7 linked regions of the Homo sapiens genome follow. The protein of the gene in region 6 purifies or fractionates together with the protein of the main gene of each other region. This does not show direct contact. Each region holds a gene or a part of one and is shown on either strand. Other genes may lie near its edges. The genes, in order: CPS1, TARS2, PEX6, WDTC1, IQGAP3, TRMU and MTPAP.

Evidence for each region.
Region 1: the proteins of TRMU (region 6) and CPS1 purify together in Homo sapiens (affinity purification with mass spectrometry; one large-scale study listed by BioGRID and IntAct). This does not show direct contact.
Region 2: the proteins of TRMU (region 6) and TARS2 purify together in Homo sapiens (affinity purification with mass spectrometry; one large-scale study listed by BioGRID and IntAct). This does not show direct contact.
Region 3: the proteins of TRMU (region 6) and PEX6 purify together in Homo sapiens (affinity purification with mass spectrometry; one large-scale study listed by BioGRID and IntAct). This does not show direct contact.
Region 4: the proteins of TRMU (region 6) and WDTC1 purify together in Homo sapiens (affinity purification with mass spectrometry; one large-scale study listed by BioGRID and IntAct). This does not show direct contact.
Region 5: the proteins of TRMU (region 6) and IQGAP3 purify together in Homo sapiens (affinity purification with mass spectrometry; one large-scale study listed by BioGRID and IntAct). This does not show direct contact.
Region 7: the proteins of TRMU (region 6) and MTPAP purify together in Homo sapiens (affinity purification with mass spectrometry; one large-scale study listed by BioGRID and IntAct). This does not show direct contact.

Annotation. Positions count from the first base shown.
Region 1 is NC_000002.12:210,605,099-210,609,758, reverse strand, and holds part of CPS1 (carbamoyl-phosphate synthase [ammonia], mitochondrial isoform b precursor), read right to left. Parts: intron 4,658-4,660; coding exon 4,513-4,657; intron 3,029-4,512; coding exon 2,818-3,028; intron 1,399-2,817; coding exon 1,200-1,398; intron 1-1,199. UniProt on the Homo sapiens protein: Involved in the urea cycle of ureotelic animals where the enzyme plays an important role in removing excess ammonia from the cell.
Region 2 is NC_000001.11:150,500,425-150,505,084, forward strand, and holds part of TARS2 (threonine--tRNA ligase, mitochondrial), read left to right. Parts: intron 1-3,910; coding exon 3,911-4,011; intron 4,012-4,207; coding exon 4,208-4,309; intron 4,310-4,481; coding exon 4,482-4,554; intron 4,555-4,660. UniProt on the Homo sapiens protein: Catalyzes the attachment of threonine to tRNA(Thr) in a two-step reaction: threonine is first activated by ATP to form Thr-AMP and then transferred to the acceptor end of tRNA(Thr). Also edits incorrectly charged tRNA(Thr) via its editing domain.
Region 3 is NC_000006.12:42,972,165-42,976,824, reverse strand, and holds part of PEX6 (peroxisome biogenesis factor 6), read left to right. Parts: intron 1-1,786; coding exon 1,787-1,950; intron 1,951-2,738; coding exon 2,739-2,822; intron 2,823-4,660. UniProt on the Homo sapiens protein: Component of the PEX1-PEX6 AAA ATPase complex, a protein dislocase complex that mediates the ATP-dependent extraction of the PEX5 receptor from peroxisomal membranes, an essential step for PEX5 recycling.
Region 4 is NC_000001.11:27,296,592-27,301,251, forward strand, and holds part of WDTC1 (WD and tetratricopeptide repeats protein 1), read left to right. Parts: intron 1-456; coding exon 457-565; intron 566-1,346; coding exon 1,347-1,520; intron 1,521-4,634; coding exon 4,635-4,660. UniProt on the Homo sapiens protein: May function as a substrate receptor for CUL4-DDB1 E3 ubiquitin-protein ligase complex.
Region 5 is NC_000001.11:156,524,905-156,527,565, forward strand, and holds the end of IQGAP3 (ras GTPase-activating-like protein IQGAP3), read right to left. Parts: intron 1,696-2,661; coding exon 1,582-1,695; 3' UTR 501-1,581; downstream 1-500.
Region 6 is NC_000022.11:46,337,994-46,342,653, reverse strand, and holds part of TRMU (mitochondrial tRNA-specific 2-thiouridylase 1), read right to left. Parts: intron 1-4,660. UniProt on the Homo sapiens protein: Catalyzes the 2-thiolation of uridine at the wobble position (U34) of mitochondrial tRNA(Lys), tRNA(Glu) and tRNA(Gln).
Region 7 is NC_000010.11:30,338,644-30,343,303, reverse strand, and holds part of MTPAP (poly(A) RNA polymerase, mitochondrial precursor), read left to right. Parts: intron 1-1,663; coding exon 1,664-1,836; intron 1,837-2,853; coding exon 2,854-3,078; intron 3,079-4,660. UniProt on the Homo sapiens protein: Polymerase that creates the 3' poly(A) tail of mitochondrial transcripts. Can use all four nucleotides, but has higher activity with ATP and UTP (in vitro). Plays a role in replication-dependent histone mRNA degradation.

The sequences.
Region 1 (4,660 bases), on a different chromosome or scaffold from region 6:
AAGAACAATATGGAAAAATATGTCATAAACAGCCTTTTGCTCTGTACTCTAATCAACTTAGATACATAGACTAAAAGCTCCCACACTGGCCACAACAGAAATAGAGATGAGATACAGATAAACTAAGATAAATGGTAGATAGACAAATGATAGAGAAAGACTGAGATTTGTTCATACTTCAGCACTCATCTACCCCATGCAACATTTATGAATACTAATTTAATAATAACAATAATGATGGATTACATTTATTAAGAGGGGGTATTATAAGAATCCTGCAAGGTAGGTATTATTATTTCTATTTTATAGGTGTGGATCCTGAAACTCAGTCTTGCCTGAGAGTCTGTAGCTAATAAGTGGCAATGCCAAGAGTAATATCCAAGTCCAGCTGGTTCCAAGTTTCATGTTTTCTCCACTATCCCAAACCTTCTGGATGCAGAAAATGATTAGGACTTGGTGGAAGGAGGCAAGGGAGTGAATCTCAGCAGAGATATGAATTCCTTTCTTTCCTCTCACACAGAAGAACACTGCATCTTTGAAGATGCAATAATCAAAGGCTAACTTTAATTTCAAATAGTATAACAGCACATTCTAAAAAATCTTCTAAAGATGTTAAAAGCTTAGAACTTTTTAGTATAATTAAAGAGGGCTTAATAATCTACTATGCTCATATCAATTTAGAATTTTAGAGCTGGAAGGATCCTGAGAGATGAACTAGTCCAGCCTCTTCTTTTATAGATGTGGGGAATGAGGTCTCAGGAAGTTAGAGCCACAATTTGCATGAATGGACTAAAGTTGAATTCTTAAGCTCAGTTCAGTGGTCTTTTTGATATATTATATTCTATATTACTTTCTTGATTTGGTTATAAAATATATTACAACTCAGTTATATGTATATGAATGTGTTTTCATATGTGTATCTATACTATATAGCCAGATATATGGCCTCACCTTTTGAATAGGAAGACCTTCAAATCCAGCAAAATGGCCATGTAACATATGTAATATGTAAACAATCACATAGAGACTGTTAGCATATTAGTATGCTAATATTCAGGCAACTTTAACACTGTCAATTGCACCTTTAACACTGTCCATGTGTTGATGGTATCCAGGCAACTTTAACACTGTCAATGGTGTCACAAATTTAACAAAATAACTGAGAACAAGAAGAAAAGCGTAATAAACCAAGGACTCACCTCTCCTACACTTTTCATAGAGCTACCAATTCGGCTAGATGTTCCATGAAAACGGTCAAGATCCCAGCGGGGAATCTTGGTGACCATGTAATCCAGGCTAGGTTCAAAACAGGCTGATGTCTTCCCGGATACGACGTTCTTAATTTCTGGAAGTGGGATTCCTAGGGCAATCTTTGCAGCAATGAATGCCAATGGGTAGCTATAAAAAGAAGACAAATTTATTTTTTTTTCTTCGAGCAATTATTGAAAACAGACCAAAACATAAATTGGTCTTTCTTAAAATTTCTGGTATTATTCTACTTCAGGGTATAAGACACTTGATTCTCTGTTCTGCATCAATATTTAGTAGCCACTTGCGGAATAATAGGAGTCATGATACAAAGTATAGAGGCACAGGTCACAGGAGAATTTACTCTCTGTGCACTACATGCATTGCTACAACGCTCAACCTTCACCTCTTCAACCCAAAATCGATAGCTTTATTGATAAATAAAGTTTAACCTTTATTTGTATTTAACCTCCACTAAGATGAGAATCTGCAAAATATTTTTTGAGAAAATATATACATATCTGTACATATACATATCTGTACCTAAGAATACAGTGGAGTTAGCTAGTACAAGAGAGTACATAATGGTCAGAAAATGTAGGCATTTCAAGTTTGGGTCCTTGCTCTGTCTCCAAATTATCTTTGAACTTTGGGCTCCTTACAAAACTAACACTTTGAGAACTTGACTATCTTCATCCAGAATGTCAGTTTGGGTTATTCTGTTTGAGAAAATAATTCATAGAACTATAGAATTAAAAATGAGTTCTTTAGTACAACTTCCACCTAACAAATGAGGAAACTGATAAAGACAATGAGTGATGTGCTCAAAATCACACGGTCAACAGAAGAACCAAGTGAGAATGCAGAATTGTGACTCCTGTACAGGGCAACATGCCTTTCACCACTCCACGCAGTGCTGTGGAACTACGTAAAAAAAATATAAAGAAGTAAATATTGTGTTCATTTAAATGCCATAATTTAAGTGTAAGGTGCTAAATATATTATTAGAAACCAAAGGTTTTGATTACCTTTCCCTCCAATCATGCCTGCTAGTGGCTGTTACATAGACAGCAGATGTATTTGTTTGGTTGTAACAGTTACTTGTGAAAAAATTCCGCACTGTTCAGTCTTGTGGAGTTTTGATAAAATAAAAGTAATGTGTATTGCATGCTTGAGTCAAGTGAGCTATATTTTCTGTCAACTATTTGCTATAGGGCTATACACCTGAAGAAAACAGCTGAAGACTAAAATTAAGGATTAATCTGCACTTTTAACAACATCTGCAAAGTGCAATTAGGAAGCAGATTTTTCACAGCCTGCTTTAGCCACCTAGATTTTGATTCGTTTAGATTAGCCTGCAAACAAAGCCAGCTAGCAATATAATTTACCTCAATCTGGCAACAAGCTCATTAATAATCATGTCCTCAGGGTGCTATAAATGATTTGGAGCTAACATACAGAAAAAGGGAACATAGTTTGTAAATGCAGTACAGTCTTCCACTATCTGTCAATTTTTCATTTCTATCTGAAAAGAATCTGCAAACCCATGGTCAATTATTCTGGTCTTACCCAGTGGCTTTTGAGGCCAGAGCAGAGCTTCGGGACAGTCTGGCATTCACTTCAATGATGCAGTATTCCATTGAGGTAGGATGAAGGGCAAACTGAATGTTGCATTCACCCACAATGCCCAAGTGGCGAACAACATTGATTGAAGTACGTCTCAACATCTGAAACTCGGCATTGGAGAGTGTCTGGGCAGGAGCCACAACAACTGAGTCACCTATATATCCAAGAAGCACTCATTACTTGGTGGCATATTGAAATAACCAACTTCAGCGACTTAACCATCTACTTGCACGATGCAAGACATAGAACAGTCTGAGGGTTTGTTGGGATATATATGTGATATCAGGTATTCCCCCAATTCCTGTTTTGCCCATATTACTCTGATACAGTACTTTTAGAAACCTCTCTAACCTTTCCCAAGTTCATCTATCTAGTAAGTAGCTATCAAGGCTTCAATCGTCTACTTACTAGATTGACTTCAACTTCCCTGCTCTTCATCTCAAATTATTTCTGAAGTTCTTCCTTTCATTGAATATTATCACTCAGACTGGCTCATCAGCTGGCTTTCTGTATCTCATCCCTTTCCATCTTCACTTCCCTCATCATAGCCCCTTATATCTGCAATCTTAGTCTCCATCCCTTCTGCCTTCAAACACGCTCAGATCTTCACTGCCTCCGGAAGTCTTCTCCCAACATTGCCAGACAACCATACAAAGCTTCTCTCTCATTCTTTACATGAATGAGCTTCTTGAAAGTTTGCCAATTCTGCTTACCACTTGATACCATGTAATTCCTTTTAATAGAGCTCACAGAACTGACTTTGCAATGAAATTGTTCTCTTGGACATCCAAAAGAGCCAAATTAAATAATCAGTCTTGGTCTTGCATAGCATTTGATACTGCCAAAAACAAAGCTCTTTTATAAAATAGTTCTTGCATTGGCTTAGTTGGTACAGTACTACCTGATTTTCCTCTTAACTCTTTATTCTCCCCTTCTATCTTCAACAGTAATACTTCCTCTTTCCCCTGCCCTATAAATCTAAATGTTTCCCAGAGTTCAAAGTTCAACCCTATTCTCTCCTCTTTCTATACCTATGTCCTTGAATACTTTGTCTATGCCTACAACTTCAATTTCCCCTTTTATGCCAACAGTTTCCAGTGTCTTTGTATCAACTTATTTATTTCTATTTTATTTCTTAAATTCCATCTCCACATTCTCAACTCCCTTTTTTGACAGCTCTGCTCACACCCCAAATTTAGCACTTTTAAATCCTAAGTTATCATCTTTGCCCTCTTATCTAACTAGTGTACTTTTCTGAAAAACTTATTTCTATTATTGTGCCTATTTTCTCATTTACTGGGTGATTACCAGCTCAGTCTGCTTTAAACTGTCTCAACCTCCCTTCTTATTTCTCAACACTAAGTTTTATGGATCTTATTTCTACCATATTGCTTACCTTTGGCTCTTCCTCAATTAACTCAGTGTAATATCCGCCTTACTTCACAGGGTTTGTGTGAAGATCAAATTAAATGTGAGAACATTTTCAATACTGTAAAATACTATGCTTGTCCAAAATGTTATCACTAGTCTGTCAACTAGAAATAGTAATTTAAAGGCAACAACTTTATAAAGACTGCCTTGGCCATCAAAGACATGAACTGAAAGCATTACTATAGTTCTTGAAGATACTTTGCCTACCTGTGTGAACACCCATGGCATCAACATTTTCCATGTTACAGACAGTGACACAATTGTCATCAGCATCTCGAACCACTTCATATTCTATTTCTTTCCAACCTGTCACTGACTTCTCCACCAGAATTTGGTTGGTCATAGCAAAGGCCTA
Region 2 (4,660 bases), on a different chromosome or scaffold from region 6:
ACTAAAAATATAAAAATTGGCCGGGTGAGGTGTTAGGACACACCTGTAGTCCCAACTACTCAGTAGCCTGAGGCAGGAGAATCGCTGAACCTGGGAAGTTGCAGTGAGCCAAGATCACACCACTGCACCCTAGCCTGGGCAACAGAGCAAGACTCCGTCCCAAAAAGTAAAAATAAAACAGGCTGGGGGCGGTGGCTCACGCCTATAATCCCAGCACTTTGGGAGGCTGAGGCAGGTGGATCACCTGAGGTCAGGGGTTTGAGACCCTGTCTCTACTAAAAATACAAAAATTAGCCCAGCGTGGTGACAGGCACCTGTAAACCCAGGAGGCGGAGGTTGCAGTGAGCCGAGGTCGCACCACTGCACTCCAGCCTGGGCGACAGAGTGAGGCTCCATCTCAGAAAAATAATAATAAAATGAAAAATAAAATAAATGCTATGATGAGAGGAAGTCTATTTGGAGGGAGAAGTTGTTGTAAAGGGAAGTTCCTGGAGAGGTTTAAGGTAGGATTGAGAAGCCTTCATAGAAGGGATCACCATTGCCATTGTATCCAGGGTGGAAGGAAAGGCTGAAGGTAGATGCAAGGAAGTTTGTAGGCATGGTAACAGGAAGTTGAGGCTCTTCCCATCCCATGGTATCAATTATCTGAATTCTTCATGAGGCAGGATCATTTGCTGAAATGAGAGTGGAGAAGAGGAGAGTTGTCAGTGAGGGGGCTGAAGATATGAAGAAAAGGCTGTGTGCAGTGGCCCCCTCTTGTAATCCCAGCACTTAGGGAGGCTGAGCTGAGATGATCACTTGAATCCAGGAGTTTGATACCAGCCTGGGCAACATAGTAACAGGGCATCATAATAAGACCTCGTCTCTACAAAAAAAAATTTTTTTTTTTTTTTTTTTTTTTTTTTTTTATTGAGACTATGTCTCGCTCTGCTGCCCAGGCTGGAGTGCAGTGGCTCGATCTCGGCTCACTGCAAGCTCCGCCTCCTGGATTCACGCCATTCTCCTGTCTCAGCCTCCCGAGTAGCTGGGACTATAGGCAGGCACCCATCACCATCACCATGCCTGGCTAATTTTTTTCTTTTTTTTTTTTTTTAGTAGATATGGGGTTTCACCGTGTTAGCCAGGATGGTCTCGATCTGCTGACCTCATGATCTGCCCGCCTTGGCCTACCAAAGTGCTGGGATTACAGGCATGAGCCACTGCGCCCGACCGTCTCTACAAAAAATTTAAAACAAATTTTAAAATTAGCTGGATGTGATGGTGGGCACCTGTAGTCCCAGCTACTCAAGAGGCTGAGGTGGGAGGATCACTTGAGCCCAGGATTTTGAGGCTGCATGAGCTATGATCAAGGCACCACACTCCAGCTTGGGTAACAGAACAAAACCCTGTCTCAATAAAATAAATAAATAAAAAGATAGAGAAAGGAAATTACTCAAGAACTGTTATATAGCTAAAATCTTTTTTTTGTTTGTTTTGTTTTATTTATTTATTTTTATATATTTTTTTGAGATCAAATTTTGCTCTGTCGCCCAGGTTGGAGTGCAGTGGCGCAATCTCGGCTCACTGCAACCTCTGCCTGCCAGGTTCAAGCGATTCTCCTGCCCCAGCCTCCCGAGTAGCTGGGATTACAGGCATGTACCACCACGCCCGGCTAATTTTTGTATTTTTAGTAGAGATGGGATTTCACCATGTTGGCCAGGCTGGTCTTGAACTCCCAACCTCAGGTGATCTGCTCGCCTTGGCTTCCCAAAGTGGTGGGATTATTACAGGCATGAGCCATCTTGCCCAGCGTTTTTTTCGTTTTTGTTTTTTTCCCCGAGACAGACTCTTGCTCTGTTGCCAGACTGAAGTGCACTGGCGGATCTTGGCTCACTGCAACCTCCACCTCCCAGGTTCAAGCGATTCTCTTGCCTCAGCCTCCCGAGTATCTGGGACAGGTGTGCACCACCACGCCCAGCTAATTTTTTTTTTTTTTTTTTTGAGGCGGAGTTTTACTCTGTCGCCAGGCTGGAGTGGAGTGGCACAATCTCGGCTCACCACAACCTCCACCTCCTGGGTTCAAGCGATTCTCCTGCCTCAGCCTCCCCAGTAGCTGGGATTACAGGCACCCGCTACCACACCAGCTAATTTTTGTATTCCCTTTTTTAGTAGACGGCATTTCACCGTGTTGGCCAGGCTGGTCTCGAACTCCTGACCTCAGGTGGTCCACCTACCTCGGCCTCCCAAAGTGCTGGGATTACAGGAGTGGGCCATGTGCCTTGCCTGGCTAAAATCTTTTGAGTACTCAAAGTTGCTGTTGACTGTGTTGGGGTCTTTTATTCAGGTAACATGTGTATTCTCATTTTTATGTCCCAAGTGTTTATTCCAGCATATGGTATTTATTTACCTGCTTCACTAAGTAGTTAGTAAATTAAAATATTAACAGTAATGAAAGTGTGTCTTCTGATTTATTTCAGCAATAACAGTAGGCAAATAAAATATCTTTATTACTAAGAAAAAAATTGAGAGAGGTTAAACAATGTGCTTAAGGTTACAGATATAACAGTCATAAAGTGTGTATTATGTTGAATCAGTCTAATAAGTTGCTGGCTCAGATACTGCTATAAAAAGAGAGAGCAAAAAACTGGAACATCCCTGAGGAGAACAGAGCATAGAGCTTATTAGGGCAATCCAAAGGATTGCTGGCAGCAGACAGGGACCAGCTGAATCTCGAAATACTGACTTCCATGGTGGCATCAATCTCTGCATTTGCATCTGTGTGGTTTGTGACATATTGGGCAGCACTGAGCAGTTCTCTTGCAGGGCCAAAGATGTAGGAGGCTAAGGTGCAGAAGAACAATGAATGGTACAAAGGGAACTAGGGAAAATGGTACAGCTTCATGGGATAAGAAACAAAGGTGGGAGGGGCCTGAGGATGGGAGAGAAAAAGAGGAGTTAAAGAACCGGTGGGTTGAAGTGCCATTAATAGGAATAATTGTCATGGCCGGGTGTGGTGGCTCACACCCATAATCCCAGCACTTTGGGAGGCCGAAGTGGGCAGATCACTTGAGATCAGGAGTTTGAGACCAGCCTTGCCAACATGGTGAAACCCCATCCCTACTGAAAAAAAAAAATACACATATGTGTGTGTGTGTGTGTGTGTGTGTGTGTGTGTATATATATGTGTGTGTGTGTGTGTATGTGTGTATATATATGTGTGTGTATATATGTGTGTGTATATATGTGTGTATATATGTGTGTATATATGTGTGTATATATGTGTATATATATGTGTGTGTATATATACACACACACACACACACATATACACACACATACATATATATATGTTAGCTGGGCGTGGTGGCATGTACCTGTAGTCCCAGCTACTCAGGAGGCTGAGGCAGGAGAGTCGCTTGAACCCGGGAGGCGGAGGCTGCAGTGAGCTGAAATCGTGCCACTGCACTCCTGTCAGGGTGACAGAGTGAGACTCTGTCTCAAAAAAAAAAAAAAAAAAGGAATAATTCTCAGAGCTGGCTGACCAAGAGACAGTAATCAGAGTAGGGTGTCTGATGGACAGTTTCAGAGGTACAGCCATTGGGGGAGATGACAGGATAAAGGGTGTAGCCATAGATGGGTGGTGGTGAAGATCTCTGAGATGAGGAGCTCAAGGAATTGAGAGGCCAGGGTGTGGACATCAGGTAATATTATAACACCATTATTAGATGGAGAGAGCTGCTGAGAACTACTGCCAGAGTGAGTTGAGTAGAGTGAACTGGAGGGGTAGCGTATGATAGAGCTAGGTGACATGATGAAGGTAGTAGCCCGGGATGAGGGTAGGTTAAAGGGTGGGATGGCACAGGTAATGGAGGATAGTGGTTCTGGATAGTGCTTCTGGCTTATCTCGTGCCTTCCCATCTGTTTCCTGTAGATTGACGTGCACCTCCACGATGCCCTGGGCCGGCCACATCAGTGTGGGACAATTCAGCTTGACTTCCAACTGCCCCTGAGATTTGACCTCCAGTATAAGGGGTATAAAACCTTGCCCTATCCTCTTTTCCCTTGACAGTGCATGGAATAAGTCCTTCTGCCTTTGGCCCTAAAAACTAAACCCTCCACACCCTCTCCTGCCAGAGCTGAATATTTCTTAAAAACTGGAAGGTGATCTTGGGTACACAATTCGTGATACTTCCACCATTCCATCCACCCCCCCCTTTTTCCTTTCAAGGCAGGCGGGTGCCCTGGAGCGTCCAGTCCTCATTCACCGAGCAGTGCTCGGTTCTGTGGAAAGACTGTTGGGAGTGCTGGCAGAAAGCTGCGGGGGGAAATGGTGAGACCTCTGACCTGGATTTCTGTTCTGGCCCCAAACCGGATAGTTATGCTCCAGATCCTGTCCCCCTTCATATGCCAGCCTCTTTCCTTCTCAAGTCTGCTCCATACAAGCACACTTCTGGCCAGAGCCAGAGTGACTAATTTGCCATCACCTGTTCTTTCCCTACCAGGCCACTGTGGCTGTCCCCGTTCCAGGTGGTGGTCATCCCTGTGGGGAGTGAGCAAGAGGAATACGCCAAAGAGGTAAGGAGTTGAGGTAAGGGAGGGGGCAGAAGCAGGTCCAGTAGAGAGTCTGGTGCCCTGCAGTGGGCAGGAAGAGGCTGCAGGGGTGGTAGAGGAAGGAGCACAG
Region 3 (4,660 bases), on a different chromosome or scaffold from region 6:
CCAAGGAAAGTTTTTGGTTTCTGCCTTTACTTCAAGAAGAAAGTTGTAGAACAGATAATAGTTGTTCCATTTCCATGGGTTACTGAGTAAAGACTCACCAGTTCGCCATAACAGACATAAGAGTGACAAAAAAATAAACCTTCATTGTGTAAAAAAAAAAAAGGCCAGGCGCAGTGGCTCATGCCTGTAATCCCAGCACTTTGGGAGGCTGAGCCAGGCAGATCACTTGAGGTCAGGAGTTCGAGACCAGCCTGGCCTACATGGTGAAACCTCATCTCTACTAAAAATACAAAAATCAGCCCAGTATGGTGGTGCACACCAGTAAACCCAACAACTGGGGAGGCTGAAGCAGGAGAATCGCTTGAACCTGGGAGGTGGCAGTTGCAGTGAACCCAGATCACACCACTGCACTCCAACCTGGGTGACAGAGCAAGATTCTGTCTCAAAAAAAGAAAAAAATGAAAGTTGTGTTTAGGGGGACAAATACAGTATAGTGTTTAATTAAGGACCTAGATATATGGTTTAGATGGTGCTGTCCAATATGGAAGCCACCAGCCACTTTGTGGCTTTTTAAATTTTTAAATTTAGTTAAAACTAAATAAAGTAAGCCTGGCTAACATGGCGAAACCCCATCTCTATTTTAAAAAATACAAAAATTAAATCCCAGCACTTTGGGAGGCCAAGGCAGGCAGATCACAAGGTCAGGAGATTGAGACCATCCTGGCTAACACGGTGAAACCCCGTCTCTACTAAAAATACAAAAAAAAAAAAAATTAGGTGTGGTGGCACATGCCTGTCGTCCCAGCTACTCTGGAGGCTGAGGCAGGAGAATCCCTTGAACCCAGGAGGCGGAGCTTGCAGTGAGCCGAGATGGTGCCACTGCACTCCAGCCTGGGTGACAAGCGAGACTCCATCTCAAGAAAAAAATAAAACCCACAAAAATTAGCCAGGCATGGTGGTGCACATGCCTATAGTCCCAGCTACTCAGGAGGCTGAGGCACAAAGAGAATCATTTGAACCCAGGAGGAAGAGGTTGCAATGAGCCGAGACTGTGCCACTGCACTTCATCATGGGCGACAAAGTGAGACTAAGTCTCAAAAAAAAAAAAAAAACTAAATCATGTTTTTTAGTTGCTTTAGCTACATTTCTTTGTTTTTGTTTTGTTTTTAGCCACATTTCAAGTGCTCAATAGCACATGCAGATATAGACTATTCCATTGTAGAGAGTTCTACTGGGCAGTACTAGAGTAACCAGTTAATACTTTGGGATGTCAGGTAGAGATACATGTGAAATACATGTGAAAGGGAGTGGATGTAGGTTTCCTCCTGAATGGAGGAAAAACTACTGGGGTACTCAAGAGTAGAGCTCATTGAACCAACCAATGACTGAACCAACCCGTTCAGCTTTTCCCACAGCCTGAATTCAGTTTCCCCACTAATGACCACTTAATGTTAATCCCTGTGGATGCCTGGTGTCACTAATAGGTCTTGTGGGAATAAATGTCTTTACCATTTCACTGGCTCTGGGCCAAGTTGAAAGTGTCACAGAAAGGTTATCTTTACTGAGAAAATTTTTTGGAGCCAGAGTCGGGATAGGAGGTGATATTCTCTTCCTGGTACCCATTAGAGGGAGAGGTTTTCAGGTCTGCTACCTCAGGCCCCACCTTCCACAAGCCTTGTGGTTATGGGAAAGACAGGATGGAAATAGACATGTTGGCTGCTGAGAGACAGGTTAGAGCCTGCCCCCTTAGGAGAAGGTTATAACGTGGTGGTTATTTCTCTAATAGAGGTACTTGGAAGGCTCCATCGCCCCTGAAGACAAAGGAAGCTGCTCATTGCTGCCTGGGCCTCCATTTGCCAGAGAGTTACACATCGAAATTGTGTCTTCTCCCCACTACAGCACTAATGGAAATTATGACGGTGTTCTTTACCGGCACTTTCAGATACCCAGGTTAGCTACCTAACCTTTTAAGGAGGATAGCTTCTCACCCTCATTACATTCCTCCTATCCCATGCCTTAGAACCAAGTACCCCAGAGGCCCTGGTTAAAAGAAGCCACATTTGCGGCTAGGTGCTGTGGCTCACGTCTGTAATCCCAGCACTTTGGGAGGCCGAGGTGGGCGGATCATGAGGTCAGGAGATTGAGAGCATCCTGGCTAACATGGTGAAACCCCGTCTCTACTAAAAATACAAAAAAAAAATTAGCCGAGTGTGGTGGTGGGCGCCTGTAGTCCCAGCTACTTGGGAGGCTGAGGCAGGAGAATGGCGTGAACCCGGGAGGTGGAGCTTGCAGTGAGCCGAGATCGCACCACTGCACTCTAGCCTGGGCGACAGAGCGAGACTCCGTCTCAAAAAAAAAAAAAAAAAAAAAAAACAAAAAAAACATTTCAGACAGATTGTGGTAGGCGCCTCTTGGTATATCAGGGAGACCACAGAAGAGAAATCTGAACCATGAGGTTAATTTGGACATTCCAAACAGAGACACCTGTGATTAAAGAGGGCTCCAAAAGAGCCAGGATCCTGCTCTGCCACTCATCTGTCTCTGATCCCCCTTTCTAGTCTCTCCACCATTTCCCCTAGCTCATCCTAAGACTGACTTGTTCCTTGGAGAACTGCGTGGGATCTCTGGGCGGGCAGTAGACTCAAGAAGTAGTCTGCATGTCGGGGGTGGACATGTGGTAATGAACACATGCTCATTACTCCCATTGTGACCTGACCAGGGCCACTGCTGTGTTGCAGGGTAGTCCAGGAAGGGGATGTTCTATGTGTGCCAACAATTGGGCAAGTAGAGATCCTGGAAGGAAGTCCAGAGAAACTGCCCAGGTATGCAGCTGCCTTCTGTCCTACAGCTGGGATTTGTAACCTGGGTGCATGAGTTCTACAATCCCCTCCCTGCAAATCATGTGTAATTTGTGCCCAAGAGGATTTCGTTGTCATGTATTTTGTGTGTGCGTGTGTGTGTGTAACAGGTTCTTGCTCTGTTACCCAGGCTGGAGTTTAGTGGTGCAAACACAGCTCACTGCAGCCTCTACCTCCATGGCTCAAGTGATCCTCCCACCTCAGCACTGCCTCTGCCCCAGTAGCTGGGACTACAGGTTCGCATCACCACGCCCAGCTATTGGTTTTTGTATTTTTAGTAGAGATAGGGTTTCGCCATGTTGACCAGGCTGGGCTCGAACTCTTGAGCTCAAGTGATCTGCCTGCCTTGGCCTCCCAAAGTGCTGAGATTACAGGTGTGCACCACTCACCCCCAGCCTGTGTACATTTTTTTGGAGAGAAAATTCACCTGTCCTTCAGTTCCCAAACAAGTGTATGACTGAAGAAAGGTTAAGAACCAGTCAGGCATGGTAGTGCATACTTATAATCCCAGCTACTCAGGAGGCTGGGCAATATAGCTAGACACTGTCTCAAAAAACAAGCAAACTAAAAGAACCACTCCCTGCTGGCTTTGGGAGGTGTTTATCCTCAAACTGACTGGTGGCCCTATGTAAAGCAAAGCACTAAGAAGAGTTTAGGCCAGGTGTGGTGGCTCACGACTGTAATCCCAGCACTTTGGGAGGCTGAGGCAGGCAGATCACTTGAGGTCAGGAATTCAAGACCAGCCTGGCCAATATGGTGAAACCCTGTCTCTACTAAAAATACAAAAATTAGCCGGGTGTGATGGTGGGCATCTGTAATCCCAGCTACTCAGGAGGCTGAGGCGGGAGAATCACTTGGACCTGGGAGGCAGAGGTTGCAGTGAGCCCAGATCGCATCACTGCTCTCCAGCCTGGGTGACACAGCAAGACTCCATCTCAAAAAATAAATAAATAGGTAAAATTTAAATTCTTTTCTTTTTAAAGAAGAGTTTAATGGCCTAGACCAAGACGGGATTCCTTCCTTTCCGTTCTTAGCCTTCGTGTTATTTGGACCAAGACTTGGGCCATACCATCCATATCTCAACGTAAGGATATACAGGCTCTGATTTCTGCCTTAACTACGGAGTGTGCACAAACTACTTCTCAATCCTATCTCTGAAAACAGGAGAGGGATTTCTCTTTTTTTTTTTTTTTTTTTGAGACAGAGTCTTGCTTTGTTGCCCAGGCTGGAGTGCAGTGGCGCAATCTTGGCTCACTGCAAGCTCCGCCTCCCGGGTTCATGCCATTCTCCTGCCTCAGCCTCCCAAGTAGCTGGGACTACAGGTGCCCACCACCACGCCCGGCTAATTTTTTGTATTTTTAGTAGAGATTGGGTTTCACCGTGTTAACCAGGATGGTCTCGATCTCCTGACCTTGTGATCCGCCCGCCTCGGCCTCCCAAAGTGCTGGGATTACAGGCGTGAGCCACCGCACCCAGCCAGGGATTTCTATTGTTTTTGAGAGGGCTACCCTGTCCTATCAACAGAGAATGAGAAATAGAGCATAACCGAGCCAAGAACCCAAAATAAGGAATCCAGCTTTTCTCCTCTTGTTGACTCTGACCACAGAGGTTCCATGTAAAATGGTGAGGCAAAGAATTGAGACACTGCTTTAGCCTTATGTGTAGGGAGGAAAATGTATAGCTCTGTATCCCAGCATTCCCTGTATTCTGGACTCATTTCCTGCAGCAGTTTACTAGAAGGAGAGCACAGCTGATAGATGCACTAACTCATACATAAGAGCCTTCATGTCCAAGGTCTGTGG
Region 4 (4,660 bases), on a different chromosome or scaffold from region 6:
TCACTGCCCTTTTTGCTTCCCTCTGAAAAGACAGGTTCCTTCCATGGCTTGGCTCTTGAGAACCTGAAATAGTTCCCCTCTCCTTTGTATCCTGGCCCAGTCTTCTCATTGATTTCTTCCTGGGGCCTACAGTTGATTTAGGCACCTCCTCACTCCATTCCCACCCCCAGCCCCAGCCCTAGCCCCAGCCCCAACCCTAGCCCCAGCCCCAGCCCTAGCCCCAGCCCCAGCCCCAGCTGAGTAATGCCACGGTGAAGTTGTGTCCCTCGCCAGCCAGCAGAGGGCGCACGGGCTTTTCTTTATGTCAGAACTTGCTTTCTGGGAATGGATCTTACTCTGGGAGAACAGTCCCACGATGGAACCATCAGACCCCGTGATGGAAGCTAGAGGGCTGCCAGGAAGAAATGGGTCCTCTTCCTGAGTTGTTGCTGTCACTTTCTCACTATCTCCTGCCAGAAGTCCAGAATGGCAAGATGTCCACCAACGGTGTGTCCAACGGTGTGTCCAATGGCCTGCACCTTCATAGCAATGGCTTCCGGCTGCCGGAGAGTAGGGGACATGTCAGGTGAGGCCAGCTGGCTTGTCCAGCCCTCCAAGCCCCAGTTACACTATATGGACTGGAGGGAGGGACATAACCTGTAAATCTTCCTCCTGACCCACACCCACTCATGCATCCCAGAGAGTGAGGACCAAGGCAAAGAGCCTTCTTGGAGGGTGCCTAGTGTTTCCAGTGCCCCTCTGCCTGGCAGAACACTAGTCATGGTCAGACTGTAGCTCTAGCCTGTTGGTACCAGTAACTGGGGTCAGGACTCAGGAGCTAGCTGCCTCTTAGCACTGAGCTGTCTCCAAAAAGGGGCTGCATACAAATGGGCCTCCGCATTATATTATTCCCCATCCTATAGCATATCCTTGCCTCTTTTCTCTGCCAGCCTCTGTGCTGGGCTTTGGATACAGAGGCGCTCAAATTCCCTAGCCTTGAGAGAAATAGAGTTCTCTAGACAGCGATCCACAGGAGGGACTCGGGTGGTCATAAGGTTCAGCTCAGCATGGAGGCAGGTGGTATCAGCTACTACCATGCCCAGGAGTTGAAGTACAGCTTCATTTCTGCCCTTCTTTTCACTGGCTGAGAGTATTTGGAATGGTATTTGGAATGAAATTCCAAATGGTATTCCCTATCACAGTAATAGGTAATATCCCAGACCAGGGTAGTGGTCCCCTCTTCCAGATAGCAGTCAGATCCCAGGGGCCAAGAAAATCTGGGTGGCCCTCAGGCCATGTTACAGACTCCCTGAGGGGCTGCTCTGACCTTCTTTGACTGTTCTGACTTGGCTCTATTTCCCCTGCAGCCCCCAAGTAGAGCTACCACCATACCTGGAGCGTGTGAAACAGCAAGCCAATGAGGCTTTTGCCTGCCAGCAGTGGACCCAAGCCATTCAGCTTTACAGCAAGGCTGTGCAGAGGGCCCCTCACAATGCCATGCTTTATGGAAACCGAGCAGCAGCCTACATGAAGCGCAAGTGGTGAGTGGCCACTGCAGAGGGGATCTGGGTCAGGATGAGGGAGAAAGCAGCTGGACCAAAAGGCAGGGGCCTGATGGAGCCAAGTTGCCAAGGCATCCAGGGAAAGTGGCAAGAACATATTGCTGCCTCTTAGGGCTTCTTGGCCTCTCCTCCCCACCTCCAGGCTAATGGTGGGCAGGCACCTGACCCATTAATCAGGAAGTCTCAAGCACTAAGGAAGCTCACAGTTACGTGGAACATGTTCAAAACTAGTTTCTACATGGCATATTATTATAAAGTGCTGTGGCCCCTGGGGAAGTATGAGTTGAGGACTGTTAGTCCCAACTGTTGGAGAATTGGACTTTGAAGAGCAGTGGAATCTTGCTAAGTGGAAATGAGGGGTTTGGTGAATTCAGTTGGTATGTGTCTAAAATATTCTGCAGTCCCTTGCCCCTCTAAGGCTTGCTTTCTGTGTTCTTAGACCCTTTGGACTGAGTACAAACCATATCCCAGAGATCCAAAGCTGGCTATGGGTCACGCTAGGGTATGGTGGCTGGTAATAAAGAAGTAGACCATATCTGAAAGAACTCCTCATCTTTGGAGACCATCAGGGCCCCCAGCCCTACTGCCTGCAGCACCAGCAGGCAAGCAGACATGCAGACCCCGCCCCCCCATCCCCCAGCCAGGGCCAGGACTAGAGATGGATAGAGCTGGGCCCACAGCCATTTCTGCTCCGTCTGGCATCCGTCGGCTCTGCCCAGACAGACAGGCCAGCTGGTGTGCCATCGTCTGGCTGCAACTCGGCAGGCCAGAGAGGGAAACTTAAGAAACCCACCCAAGTCAGCAGGATGGTAATGCTAGGTGGGGGTGGGGAAGATGCTGTCCCCCGGCCTTAGCTAAGGCATCAGGAGTTGGCCAAGGGCTCAGGTGGTAGCCAAACCCAGGAGATGACTGTTTTGGATGAATCGTGAGTTGATTCACCTCTCTGTCCAACAAACAGTTGGGTAGAACTCAGTGGTCCTCATCCAGGCTGTAGGCTAAGAGCTCAGCTTCACTCCTGCATTCTTGCTAAGAGAGGTTGGTGATTTCCTAATCCATATGTGCCCTCAGCATGTTCTCTGAGCTCCTACTATGTGCTAGGTACTAGGAACACAAAGTTCTATCACTCTGAGTTCCTGTGCTCCAGAGGAGCCTCTCCAGACAGTGGGTAAAGTGGTGGACATAGTTCAGCATTAAAGAGATAGGAAGCAGTGAGTCTTGTGAATGGTCAGGTAAAGGGCTGTGGGCATCAAGAAAAGTTGGGTCGCTTTAGCTGGGGAGCAGGGAAGCATCAGAAAGACATGGCGTCTGAATGGGCTTTAAGTGTAGGCAGGCTTAGACAGGAGATGAAGGAGAGGAGGGGCCTGTGGGGGAAGGACATTCCAGGGAGATGAAATGGTGTGAACAAAGGCATGGGGGTGGGGGACTGACTGAAGAGCTTGTTTGCAGAACAGCAAATCCATTTGGCTGGAGCAGAGGGTTCGGAAAGGGACTGGCAGGAGATGAGTCTGTGAGGTAGCCTGGGGCCGGCCTAGGGAGAGCTTGGAATGCAGAGCGGTGACGTTGGCCTCGATTCAGTGCATGATGGGCAGCTACTGGAGAGTTCTGAGCAGGAGAGGGATGTGCCGAGGGCTGTCCTTTCAGGGAGATTGATCTGGCAGTGAGTCTAGGAAGGGTGAGCCCTGGGGCCAGCCTGCTCTCTACCCCCATCCCCACATGCCTGCCAGTGACCCCTAGAATGTCACATTCTGTCCTGGGCCAGTCTCCCCAGGGCTGCCATCTGCTCCTGGATGCAGTGGGAGCTGTCACCCTCTGGCTCCTGGCTGGTCTCTGGTCTGGCTCTCCCCAGGAGCTCAGAGGGGCACCTTGCAGGCAGTAATTGGGTTTCCAAACAGTGCCTGCTCCTTCGTCAGAGCCACTCATCCTGACGCAGGCCACGCCATTGAAGCAGCTCTGTTTCCTGCCTGCCCCCACATGGGCTGAGCTGCTGGTTCCTGGTCTGAGCGTGGCTGTTCCGAGGACTGGGTGCTCCCTCTGAGTGCTGCAGAAGGAGGCTCAGGAAGAACCTTCCCATGTCAGGCCTGCCTTAGCCATGCCGGATTGTTGTGAGCTGTGCCCTTGGAGAAGGGGCCATTAACTCTAAGGGGTGCCTCTTACTGCTGCTTGGCACAGTTGGGTCCTAGGCCTACTCCAGCCCAGCTGAAAAAAAAAAATGGCTTCTGAAGAAGCAGTTCCTGTGGCCTGTCTGGCTCTCCAGACAAGAGGCAAGGACAGGTCTGTGGGTGCTGGGGGAGTATGCTTCCTATATTCTGGCACAGGGTGGGAAAAGGAGGGGCTTCTCTGACCTCCTTTCACTTCCTCTTTCCCCGCTTCCCCATCAAAAGCACTCCCACTTCCCTTCATCCATGCTTCAGGAGGTTGGAGAAGTGAGTGGGGACGATTTGGAGCTCCTGGTGTGCACAACCCCCCTTACCATCAGCTTCCAGAGAGCTGACTCTGCCAGACTGTCAGGCCCCATCCTCCAGCCCCAGGAGGTAGAGGCCACAGCTGCTGTGGATCAGTCAGCCAGGACAGGGGGGGGTCTGGCTGAGGGCTTGCTGCCTGCTGGTCAGACCCTGCGTCCCCAGCCTGACACTTCTGGCTTCCCCAGACCACAGAACTGTCCTTGAGGGCCCCCTGCCTTGGATGTGGCTTTGAAGGCCAGCCGGGGGTGATTTGAGAAGGTGGATGGGGGAAGAGAGAAGGAGGGCTTGGGGAGCCTGTGGTGGGCAAGATGCCAGGCCTTCTGCTGCAGAGCTGCGGGTGCCTGGGGTGAGCCAGTGTGCAGTTGCACTCTGTGCCCAGCAGAGGGCAGCCTGACACCAGCTTTTGCCACCCTCAAGACCTCAGGGTTTCCTGGCTTGCTCCTTAACCATACTCTGTCTCCTGATGGGGGAGGCCTGGGCTGAGCCAGGATTCTCTTCGTCCTCAAGTCCCCTTGCCATGAGATCTGTCAGTGGTGGGCTGGGGTGGCCACAGGAAGCAGAGGAGACTGAATGGGGACCCCTTGCTTGCCACGTGGCTCCACCTCCAAGCCGCTCTTCCCTGCCTTCCCAGGGATGGTGACCACTATGATGCCCTGA
Region 5 (2,661 bases), on a different chromosome or scaffold from region 6:
TGTCTCTACTGTCCCCTCCCCAACAGACTTCCCTCCCTACTTTCTGAAAGCAAGGAGGAAAGGAGGGAGCTTTCCCTTCAGAAAGGAGATTTTGATCAGAGTGTAGAATCTACAATACCTAAGGAGTTATGGCTTAAGCACCTTTGATATCACCACCCAAGGCTCAGGAAAAGAACCTGCAGGAACTGTGTGTAAAACGGGTGGGGTAGAAATTAGAGTGGCTTCTCTTCTCAGCTTTAGTCTTCAGAGTGGCCGATAAAAACAGAATAGAAACCTAAGCATTCCTTCCTCCTCTCTGTCCCCCGGGGGAAGGAAGAGAGAATAAATGCCACATCTCATTAAGCTTTTACGATCTCAGGCAGGCAGAGTAGGACCACACCGGAGGCAGGCAGAGGGCTGGGGGAGGCTGCAGGAAGGATTCCCCAGTTCTCTCAGGGAGCTGTGTTCCAGAACTTAAAGGCCGGCTCTACAGAAAATGAAATAAGGGTTAACAACAGATGTGGGAGTAACAGCTGCTTTTATTAACATCAGAAGGGCAACAGTACAGGAAGTTGGGTAGATGTGGGGACAACAGAGAGACTGTGGCAGAGGCAGGACTGCAGATCTATGGAAATTGCCTGGAAGAGTCAGCTGTAAGGGATGAGAATCCTGAGGGTAAAAGAGAAAAGGGAAAGACTCCTCTTTGATCTTATGAAGCTGAAATAACAAGATCTTAAACATGAGTGAGAATCTGTTGCCCCAACCTAAGGTGACTTTAAATCCAAGGTAAAAAACACGGCATGGGTATTAGTTTGAATAGGGAAAATGAGAACTCTCTTTGAGCTCAAAAAAAAAAAAAAAAAAAAAAAAATGAAAGCGTTAAAACCCTGATTAAGTCTGCACAATGATCCAGAGTGTAAGGATGGGAGAAAGAATAAATACCCTAGTGACCCACATATTAAACAGACCACAGACAAGAGAACAAGACTTGAAGCTAATGGAAGGTCATCTTGCCCATGCCGCCATGGGGGGCAACAGTGCCACAATGCCACATGGGCACTAACACACACTGCATCCCCCCAGTCCCTGCCCAGGTTGGAGGGTGTGCAGATCACAGCAGCAGAGCTGCCTAGACTCAGGAAGGGCAGGAACACCCACTGCTGATGCAGTGGGAGGTAGGGATGGGGAGCCTGGCCCTGGCTTTGTGGGAGTGCAGAGAGAAGGAAGGCAGAGGGGAAATCAAGCCGCTGGGGCAGTGCTTGTAATATTGGGGTGACTGTGGGAGGGCAGTAGCAGACACAAGAGTAATGGCTTTCCCAGGTCAAGGTCCATGTCCTACCATCTGGCAGGAAAGCCAGGGGTTTGTCATGCATGATAAAAGCCACACAGCTGGACTCTGGGCAAGGCCCACTTTAGCCAATTAGAAGATACACTGTCTGTGGCCAGGCAGGCAAGCTCCTCCCAGCTGGGGAAGGGGTGAGAATCCCTGGGCCTTGCCCAGTCCTGAGCTCTAGGTGTCTGCAGGGAAGCACAGTGGTGAGTTAGTGTTAAAGAAAGCATCCAGAGAGGTAAGAGGGGCTTGGGTAGCACCCTTTGCCTCTGTCACTTCCGCAAAAACTTCTTGTTGAGGAGGAAGATGAGAAGGTTGACATTGACTTTGGCCTTGTTGAAGAGTTTCATGACAGCCACACCCTCATACTGGAGCTGCAGGAGATCCTAGGAGGGAAGAGGCAGGGAGGGGAGTTTAAGGGCTTCTGAATGTGGTCCAGTCAGATGGTGTACAAAACACTCACATCATGGGGCCTTCTGCAGTCACCAGTGGCACTGGCCACTGAAGTAGGGCATTGAAATCCCACTTCACAAATGAGGAAACTGAGGCAAGAGAGGTACAGTGACTTGATCAAATGTCAACTCAAGCAGAACCAGGGCTTGAAATTGTTTTTCTTATTTTATTTATTTATTTTTTTGAGACGGAGTCTCACTCGGTCTCCCAGGCTACAGTGCAGTGGCGCGATCTCGGATCGCTGCAATCTCCGCCTCCCAGGTTCAAGCGATTTTCCTGCTTCAGCCTCCTGAGTAGCTGGGATTACAGGCAGGTGCCACCACGCCAGGCTAATTTTTGTATTTTTAGTAGAGACAGGGTTTCACTATATTGGCCAGGCTGGTCTTGAACTGCTGACCTCGTGATCCGCCCGCCTCGGCCTCCCAAAGTGCTGGGATTACAGGCGTGAGCCACTGCACCCGGCCAAAATCATTTTTCTTACTCAAAAGGTAAAACATCAGAGCAAAAAGATTTGGATTAAAAACTACTGCTCGGCTGGGCATGGTGACTCATGCCTGTAAATCCCAGCATTTTGGGAGGCTGAGGCGGGCGGATCACAAGGTCAGCAGTTCAAGACCAGCCTGACCAACATGGTGAAACCCCATCTCTACTAAAAATACACAAAAAGCCGGTGTGGTGGCGCACGCCTGTAATCCCAGCTACTCAGGAAGCTGAGGCAGGAGAATCGCTTGAACCCAGGAGGCAGAGGTTGCAGTGAGCTGAGATTGCGCCATTGCACTCCAGCCTGGGTGACGGAGTAAGGCTCCGTCTCAAGAAAACAAACAAACAAAAACCCAAAAAAGCAACAACAACAACCACAACCAAAAACACCGTTGCTTCACTCCTTTCCTGAACACTGG
Region 6 (4,660 bases):
ATAGAGATGAGGTCTTGCCATGTTGCCCATGCTGATACTGAACTCCAGGCCTCAAGCAAGTCTCCTGCCTCAGCCTCCTAAAGTGCTAGGATTACAAGCGTCTACCTTTCTGACTGTGGGTCTTAAGACCCTCCCCAGACACAGTCCCACTGTATATCCTGGGGGAAGGAATGGCGATGTCATGAAGCCTCCATAAAAACCCAGGAGTACTGGGTTCAGAGAGCTTCTGCACAGCTACACTTGTGGAGGCTCCTGGAGGGTGGTCCCCAGGGAGGGTGTGGACACTCCATGACCCTTTCCCCATACCTCACCCAACCCGTCTCTTCATCTGTATCCTTTGCAACATCCTTTATAATAAACTGGTAAATGTGTTTTTCTGAGTTCTGTGAACCACTCCAGCAAATTATTAATAATTGAACCCAAAGAGGAAGTTATGGGAATCCCAACTGGAAGCCAGTTGGTCATAAGTTCTAGAGGCCCATACTTTCGACTGCTGTTGTGGGGGGAGTCCGTCTGGGGGACTGAACCCCCAACCTTTGGGATCCAGCACTATCTCCAAGTAGATGGTATCGGAACTGAATCAGAGGACACCCAGTCGGTGTCCACTGCTTGCTGTATGGGGAAAACCCCCCACACCTTTGTCACAGAAGCCTTCTTCCGTGAGGATGACTGCCGTGATGAGAACAGAGGAGAAACACAGTCAGAGGCTTCCCTACACAAGGGCTCCATGAGCCATTCTGCAATCTCAGCCTGGAATGCTGCGTCACTGGGCAAATATACCAAAAATACTATCCTCAGGTGACAAACACACACTTCTGAGAACTAGCAAACTCTTGGGTGCTTAAAGTGGATCAGGCTATCCTAATTCAGTGAACTTCTGCTCTAACAGACTGACTGAACATGGGAAAAAGATGCCATGATACCAGCAAAACTTACCAAGAATTTCATAGTCTTCGAGGATTCACTTCAAGAGGGTTATGATGCCTATTTTGGGAGTTTAAAAATGGGTGTATTTTTGGTATAAGTGATTTTTTTCATTTAACCTAAAACTCTCTATTAATCAACAAGGGTTAAAAAAAAAACCAGTGCTGATCAAGAGGTTTGTGTTTTGCAGACATATCACAGATCTGCACAGGGTCAGAGGTTCCTTGGATATCTTCCACTTTAGCAGGCACCAAACTGTTTTCCTACTTCTCAGTCCCCCTAGAAGTTCATAAAAACTCATGTTTTTCCACATTTGCAACAACACTTGATATTATTACACTCTTTCCATTTTGCTTTAATTATTAGAAAGTTACCAGGAAGCTCATTAAACTATAAACTACTTAAGGTGCAATCTGTGTCTGTGTCCTAGACCCAACAAACTTTCTATATCACAGTCATCAATAAATGTTGAAGAGGCTGAACATTAAAATCAGTTTCTGAAAAGACACACTGTTAACCCTTTCGTAAACAGCAGATGGGAAGGCGTGTGTTTTGGCATTAGCAAAAACAATGGAGTAGCCCAGCCTCTTCTCTAACTGGAAAGAAGAGAAGCCTTTCATGTGCCTCGGGAGGGAGACAGATTTAAAAGACTCAGCAGCTAAAACGTATCTGGACTCTGATCCTTGAAGGCCAGTGGGTCTTGAATGAAAGAATGCAAAAGAAATCTCTGAGCTAGAGAGCCCTACTAGAGAAGTGAGTCTTCAGCGGAAAGACCAATGCCTCCACGGGCAGCTGGTACTGGGCGAGGGCAGAGGGCAGGCTGGCTGGAGCCAGGGGCGACCTCGGGGGCAGCCCCAGAGATGGGAAAAGACTCTACCCGGCCGCCTCCTTCTCTCAGTCCCTATCAAGCAGCGCCAGAAGGCGGCAGCAAGCACTGGCCTGGAAAGCTGGGTTTTAATCCCAGCTCCGCTCCTAATTCTGGGGTTTAATCCCAGCTCCGCTCCTAATTCTGGGGTTTAATCCCAGCTCCGCTCCTAATTCTGGGGTTTAATCCCAGCTCCGCTCCTAATTCTGGGGTTTAATCCCAGCTCCGCTCCTAATTCTGGGGTTTAATCCCAGCTCCGCTCCTAATTCTGGGGTTTAATCCCAGCTCCGCTCCTAATTCTGGGTTTTAATCCCAGCTCCGCTCCTAATTCTGGGGTTTAATCCCAGCTCCGCTCCTAATTTGCCATACTATTCAAGTCACTCTTCCTATCTGGCCTCAGCTGAGCTAAACTTCAAAAATCGCATCCACTCGTACGTTCTGAAAAAGCTGTGCTGGCAGGTGAAGTGTAAGCTCACTTGGATTCCCTGTTGTCCCCTCAAACTCTACAGTACTCATGAGGAATCCCCTAAACCAGCTTTCCCCAGCCACCCAGCCTTGATCTTGAAACTACTGCTGACTCCTCTCCTCTCTGGTCTCCCACACACATCAGTCCCTAAGCCGCATCACACCTTTTCTCAAAGAAAGACCCTGACAACCCCCCACACCACCAGCACAGCTGAAGTGCTTATTAAAGCAGATTCCAGGGCCGCCCCCAGACCTCGGTCCAGGTCTGTGTTTAACAAGCACCTCAGATCTACTGCCCGGTGGACTTGTCCTCTGGGTCCAACAAGCCAGCCCTCACCTTCCACTCCCACACTCCCTCCCCATGAAGTCCAAATCTCCAGCAACAGCACTTCCTGAGACTCTCTGCCTTTGGTCTTCCCCCAGATTTATCCTGTATTTGGCCGCCACACTCTTTTTTTTTTCTTATGTCCCCGAGAAAACTGCAGAAGTTTTTAATGCATTTATCATGCATTCTACAGATAAGTTTTTAATGCATTTATCATGCATTCTACAGGTAACTTTCCCCAGGAAAATTCAGCCATCAGTTTTGTCCATGTTGTTAATATATACGACACCCATATGTTATAGCATAGAGTCACAGAGGGTTCATATTCAAGCTCTTCCGTTGATTATTTAGGTGACCATAGTCAATTTACTTAATCTCTCTAAATTTCGTTTTATTGTTATTTCAATGGTTTTTTGGGCAACAGCTGGTATTTGGTCACATGGATAAGTTCTTCAGTGGTGACTTCTGAGATTTTGGTGTACCCGTCACCCAAGCAGTGGACATTGTACCCGATGTGTAGTCTTTTATCCCTCACCCCAGAGTCCATTATATCATTTTTATGCCTTTGCGTCCTCATAGCTTAGCTCCCCAGACTCATCTTTTTAATAATGAAAATAAAAATAGCAGGCTGGCGTGGTGGCTCACGCCTGTAATCCCAGCACTTTGGGAGGCTGAGACGAGTGGATCTTCTGAGGTCAGGAGTCTGAGACTAGCCCGGCCAACATGGCGAAACCCTGTCTCTACTAAAAATACAAAAATTATCCGGGCGTGGTGGTGCATGCCTATAATCCCAGCTACTTGGGAGGCTGAGGCATGAGAATCGCTTGAACCTGGGAGGCAGATGTTGCAGTGAGCCAAGATTGCGCCACTGCACTCCAGCCTGGGCAACAGAGCGAGGCTCTGTCTCAAAAAAAAATAGAAAAGAAAAACAGCTATGTTTATTGACTGCTTACTAATATACCAGGCATACATACTAGAACCTAATCTCAATTCTTTCATAACCCTGTGAGGCATCAGTGTTATCCTCATTTTAAAGATGAGAAAATTGGGGCTTAGAAAAGTCAAGTATCTCTTCTGGGTCTTTGTTGGCAGGAAAAAAAGAGAATTTTTTTCAATTAAAAAAACAAAGTCAAGTAAATTGCCCAAGGTCATATAATAAGCTACAGTCAGGACTCAACCCAAGGCTCTTCTGCCCCTAAAGCCCACTCAGGCAGGGGCAGCCTGTCCCGCGCACATGGCCTGCTGTGTCAGACGCCTTCGACAACTGCCCGACATTCATCACAGTCAGGGCTCACCAGAGGATGAGCCCTACACTCCTTCCACTGCAGGAACAAAAGTCCAGCCAAACTTTACAACGGTCCTGAAATACACAATCAGCATTTCTTCTCCCCTTCACGCTGCTCTCGTTACCCCATTTGGAGTCCCTTCTCTACAACTTTGTTTGCAACCCCTCCTCTCCGGTGAAGCCTTCTTGATTACTCCACACTGCAAGTTTCTCCCTCCTCTGGGTTCAGTGACTGATAGCATCACTGGTACTTCCTGCGTGCCACGCATCACTGTCACCTCTTGTGAAGATAATGTCCTCCCAACTAGACCGCAAACTCCTACAGAGCCAGGTCACAGTGAAGACATCTTAATGTTCCTAGATGTGGCACACGCCTAGCACACAGCACTTAATTATTGAGATTATATTGGATTTTAGAAAAGTTTTTGTTTGTTTCTTGTTTTCAGAGGCACAGGCCATGTATCACCTCTTTCTCAGAAATCCCCTAATCGCTGACCCACATAGCACACAGGCATTGGTGCTCACCTTCCAGGGGAGCCCTCAGCCTTAGCTCCCCTATCCTAACTGGGCAACAGAAACAGCTCAAGGTCCAAGAAAGCATTAAAGAGACTTCAGGCAAGTGGCAAAATGACAGGAGTGAGAGAGCTGGGTGTGCTGTGGGGTCCAGGCCTCGCCTCTAACACAGAGCCCCGAGGGTGGCTGAGGCCTCTTGCAGTCTTCAGCACCACCGTGGAGGGAGAGCGCTGGGCTGCAGCACAGGCGTCGGTCTGGCTGGTTACCGGATCCTTCCACTGCA
Region 7 (4,660 bases), on a different chromosome or scaffold from region 6:
TAACCGGGACTGCAGACACACGACACCACGCCTGGCTAATTTGGGCAGGCTGGTCTCAAACTCCTGGCCTCAGGTGATCCGCCCACCTCCGTCTCCCAAAGTGCTGGGATTACAGGTGTGAGCCACCGCGTCTGGCCTTGTTAAGGGTATTGATATCAGACTTGGTGGTTTATGATCTCTAGAGTCTACCATTCCAGACTTTTTAAAGAAACACCTTAAACTACTTAACTGGAAGTTAAAATCTTGGGGGAAAAAAATTAGTTGTTAACATTCAGGTTTGTGCTTTAATACTCTCTTAGAACTTGAATAATTTTTTTCTCTCTATACTTAGTTCATTTGTTGACCTTCCCATTGTGGCTAGTGGGTTATTAATATTTAATTCTTCACTGTCACAATTCTTGTCTTGATTCCCTGTGATTGTAAAACTCCTAGCCTCTTTCTTTCCTTAGTAAAATTATCAGGGAGCTCTTCATGGGCAGTAACGAGGTTTTAAATTCTTTGATTTCCCTGATACAGAGCGCATGATAGTTGGTAACTCACTGTTAATTGTTTGAGCCAGATCAAGACCCTTGAGAAAGAAAAATGCCTTAATAGCTTATGTCAAAACACCGAATTTCCAAACTCATTGTCTCATTACACTCAGGCTTGTAATAATTTCTTTTAGGCTTTGGAATGTTACAATTTGCACAATTTTGTGTGTGCATATTTGTACAAGTATTAAATAAGTGATTTTAGTTTCCTGGTTTTTTTTTTTTTTTTTGTGGAACTCCGTTTTCAGCACTTTGCATCAAGCATAGTAAATCAAAACAGAGAAAGTGGGCAGTTTTAATAGTAGTCATGGGAGAGTAGTCAAACGAACACTGAAAGTGCAGTAATTCCACCTCATCCATGTTTTCACTGTCCACAGTTTCGGTTCCTCACAGTCAACTGTGGTCCACAAATAGGTGAGCACAGTACAATATGATATTTTGAGAGAGAGAGAGACCACATTCATATAACTTTTATTACAGTATATTAGAATTGTTCTATTTCATTATTAGTTGTTGTTAATCTCTGTCTCTTTTTTTTGAGACAGAGTCTCGCTCTGTTGCCCAGGATGGAGTGCAGTGGTGCAATCTCAGCTCACTGCAACGTCTGCCACCTGGTTTCAAGTGATTCTCCTGTTTCAGCCTCCCAAGTAGCTGGGACTACAGGCGCGCGCCACCATGCCTGGCTAATTTTTGTATTTTTAGTACAGATGAGGTTTCACCATGGTCAGGCTGATCTCGAACTCCTGGCCTCAGGTGATCCACCCACCTCAGCCTCCCAAAGTTCTGGTATTACAGGCATGAGCCACCAAGCCCGGCCCGTTGTTATTAATCTCTTACTGTGCCTAATTTATAAATTAAGCCTTATCATAGCAATGTATGTGTAGGATAAAACATTGTATATATAGGGCTTGGTAATATCTGAGGTTTTAAGCATTTACAGGCATCTTGGATCATAACCCCTGTGGGTAATGGGGAGACTACTGTAGTATAGTTTAACCCTTATAAAGGAAGAGAAAAAATAGATTAGGTGAAGTTGGTTTTAGTCATATATGAAGTCTTTAAACACCTTATCAAAATATTTTTAAAATTTTGTGTGTGTGCGTGTGGTGGAAATGTTTTTGTCTCGTTCATAGGCTTTGAAGACAAGATTCCCAAAAGGAGATTCTCTGAGATGCAAAATGAAAGACGAGAACAGGCACAGCGGACTGTTTTAATACATTGCCCAGAGAAAATCAGTGAAAACAAGTTTCTTAAATATTTATCCCAATTTGGACCTATTAATAATCATTTCTTCTATGAAAGCTTTGTAAGTATTTGAAAAACAATCTAACTTAACGTTTATGCTTTTCAAGGGTGGAGGTCTCCATTAGTTGTTTTTTGCTGTTGCTTTTTGCAATATGGTAGGTAGGTTCTCTTTGATATACTGCATCTTCTTTATCTAGATTTCTTTAATGAGTTTTGTTTTTGATATGGGATTCTTATAGCGGTATTTTAGGATTATAAGTCATTTATGACTGATTTCATTATTTGAATGCTTAATTTTATTTTTTAAGAGACGGGGTCCAACTATGTGGCCTATGCTGGAGTGCAGTGGCTGTTGGCAGGTACGATCATATTGCACTACAGCCTCGACTCCTAGGCTCGGGTGATCCTTCTGCCTCTGGAGTAGCTGGGACTACAGTCCTGCACCACCACACCCAGCTTGAATACTTTAGATAGTCTCTTTAACTTGCGGATGAAGGCCAGTGGGAGGGGATCTTTGTTTTGCCTTTGGATTTTTCTGCTTCATCATTCTTTTCAGTCTTTTCAGCTTCTCTTAACTAACATTGTTTTAAGGTTCCGTTTCTTTTTTTTTGACATGGAGTCTCACTCTGTTGCCCAGGCTGGAGTGCAGTGGCATGATCTTGGGTCATTGCAACCTCCGTCTCTTGGGTTCAAGCGATTCTCCTGCCTCAGCCTTCCAAGTAGCTGGACTTACAGACACCTGCCACCACGCCTGGCTAATTTTTGTATTTTTAGTAGAGGCGAGGTTTCACCATGTTGGCCAGGCTGGTCTTGAACTCTTGACCTCAGGTGATCTGCCCACCTCCATGTCCCAAAGTGCTGGGATTACAAGCGTGAGCCACTGCGCCCGGCCCAGTGTTCCTTTTCTTCATCTACTTAAATTGAATAAAATTAATGCTATGTTAGAATCATATCATTTGTAAATTTTAAAGACTTGATATTTTGTAGCATTATGATAATTGTTTTAATATATGAGCTAAAATAGTATGTTAGATATATCGTGAAATGTGTTCTGTTTTTTCTTATGTTTTTGGTATAGGGTCTCTATGCTGTCGTAGAATTTTGCCAAAAGGAAAGCATAGGTTCACTGCAGAATGGGACTCATACTCCAAGCACGGCCATGGAGACTGCAATTCCATTCAGATCACGTTTCTTCAATCTGAAGTTGAAAAACCAGACTTCTGAACGGTCACGCGTACGGTCAAGTAATCAGTTGCCACGTTCAAACAAGCAGCTTTTTGAATTACTTTGTTATGCAGAAAGTGTAAGTTTTTAGGTGTACCTCAACTTTTAGAACTATGTATTTTTTTATGAACAATAAAGATTCCTGTAAAATGTTCAAGCTACATTATTGTTTAATGGGTATAGATCTTCAGTTTTACAAGGTGAAAAGAGTTACGGAGATGAATCGTGGTGGTGGATGCATAATGAGATGAAGGAAAGTTTTTTTCTATTTCTAGCTTTCTAAGAATGTCGTCATGCTCAACACATTGAGTAGATGTTGAGTTTTGACATTTGAGATGGTATTGATGACTGGCATATGGTCTTGAGATTGTATATGGTTCCTAATGTCTTTTTCTTTCCCCTCCTAATGTCTTAACGTAGTGAATTGTAGATTCACTGTAGATTTCCTCATGTCAAGTCATTCTTGCATTCACAGAATAAACCCTACTTAGTCAAGGTGTATTTACAAAAATGCATTATTACATTTGTCGTGCTAATATTTTTATTACAATTTTAATATCTCTATAAATAAATGGGATTGCTTTTAAAAATTCAAACTACAGGATATGTTGAATGAAAAGTGATAGTAATCCTTGTCTGCTCCTTCCCCGCCATGCCCCATTTGTACTTACAGGTAACCACATTCTTCTGAAGTTTTCGGCCTTTTGAACAGTTTAGGTTTTCTTTCTCTTTCCAGCATAATGACATAAAATTGTACATGGTTTTCTGTCAATTTTAAAATGTCTTCTTTCTGATTCTCTCTCTCTTTTTTTTTTTTTTTTTTTGAGATGGAGTCTCGCTCTTGCCCAGGCTGGAGTGCAGTGGCATGATCTTGGCTTACTGCAACTGCTCCCCGATTCAAGCAATTCTCATGCCTCAGCTGCCCAAGTAGCTGGGACTACAGGTGTGCACCACCACACCCAGCTAACTTTTGTATTTTTAGTAGTGACGGAGTTTCGCCACTTTGGCCAGGCTGGTCTCGAACTCCTGACCTCAGGTGATGTGCCCACTTCGGCCTCCCAAACTGCTGGGATTATAGGTGTGAGCCACTACGCCCGGCCCAAGATTCTGTCTCTTCTGTGTTCAAATATTGTTTGTATTTGTCTTGGTGTTTTTTTGTTTGTTTGTTTTTGTTTTTGTTTTGAGACGGACTCTTGCTCTGTCGCCCAGGCTGGAGTGCAGTGGCGTGATCTCAGCTCACTTCAAGCTCCACCTCCTGGGTTCACGCCATTCTCTTGCCTCAGCCTCTCAAGTAGCTGGGACTACAGGCGCCCACCACCATGCCCGGCTAATTTTTTGTATTTTTATTAGAGACGGGGTTTCACTGAGTTAGCCAGGATGGTCTCGATCTCCTGACCTTGTGATCCGCCCGCCTTGGCCTCCCAAAGTGCTGGGATTATAGGCGTGAGCCACTGCACCTGGCCTGTCTTGGTGTTTCTTACTCAGACTTGCCAGACCTTGCTAGTCTTTCCAAAGAATCAACTCATGGCTTTATTTATCAAAATATTATTTTCAAGGTTTAATTTTCTAATAAGAAAATTTTTGCTTCTAATCTATTTCCTTTACTTTTATTGTTATTATTATTATTTTGAGACAGAGTTTTGCTCTTGTTGCCCAGGCTG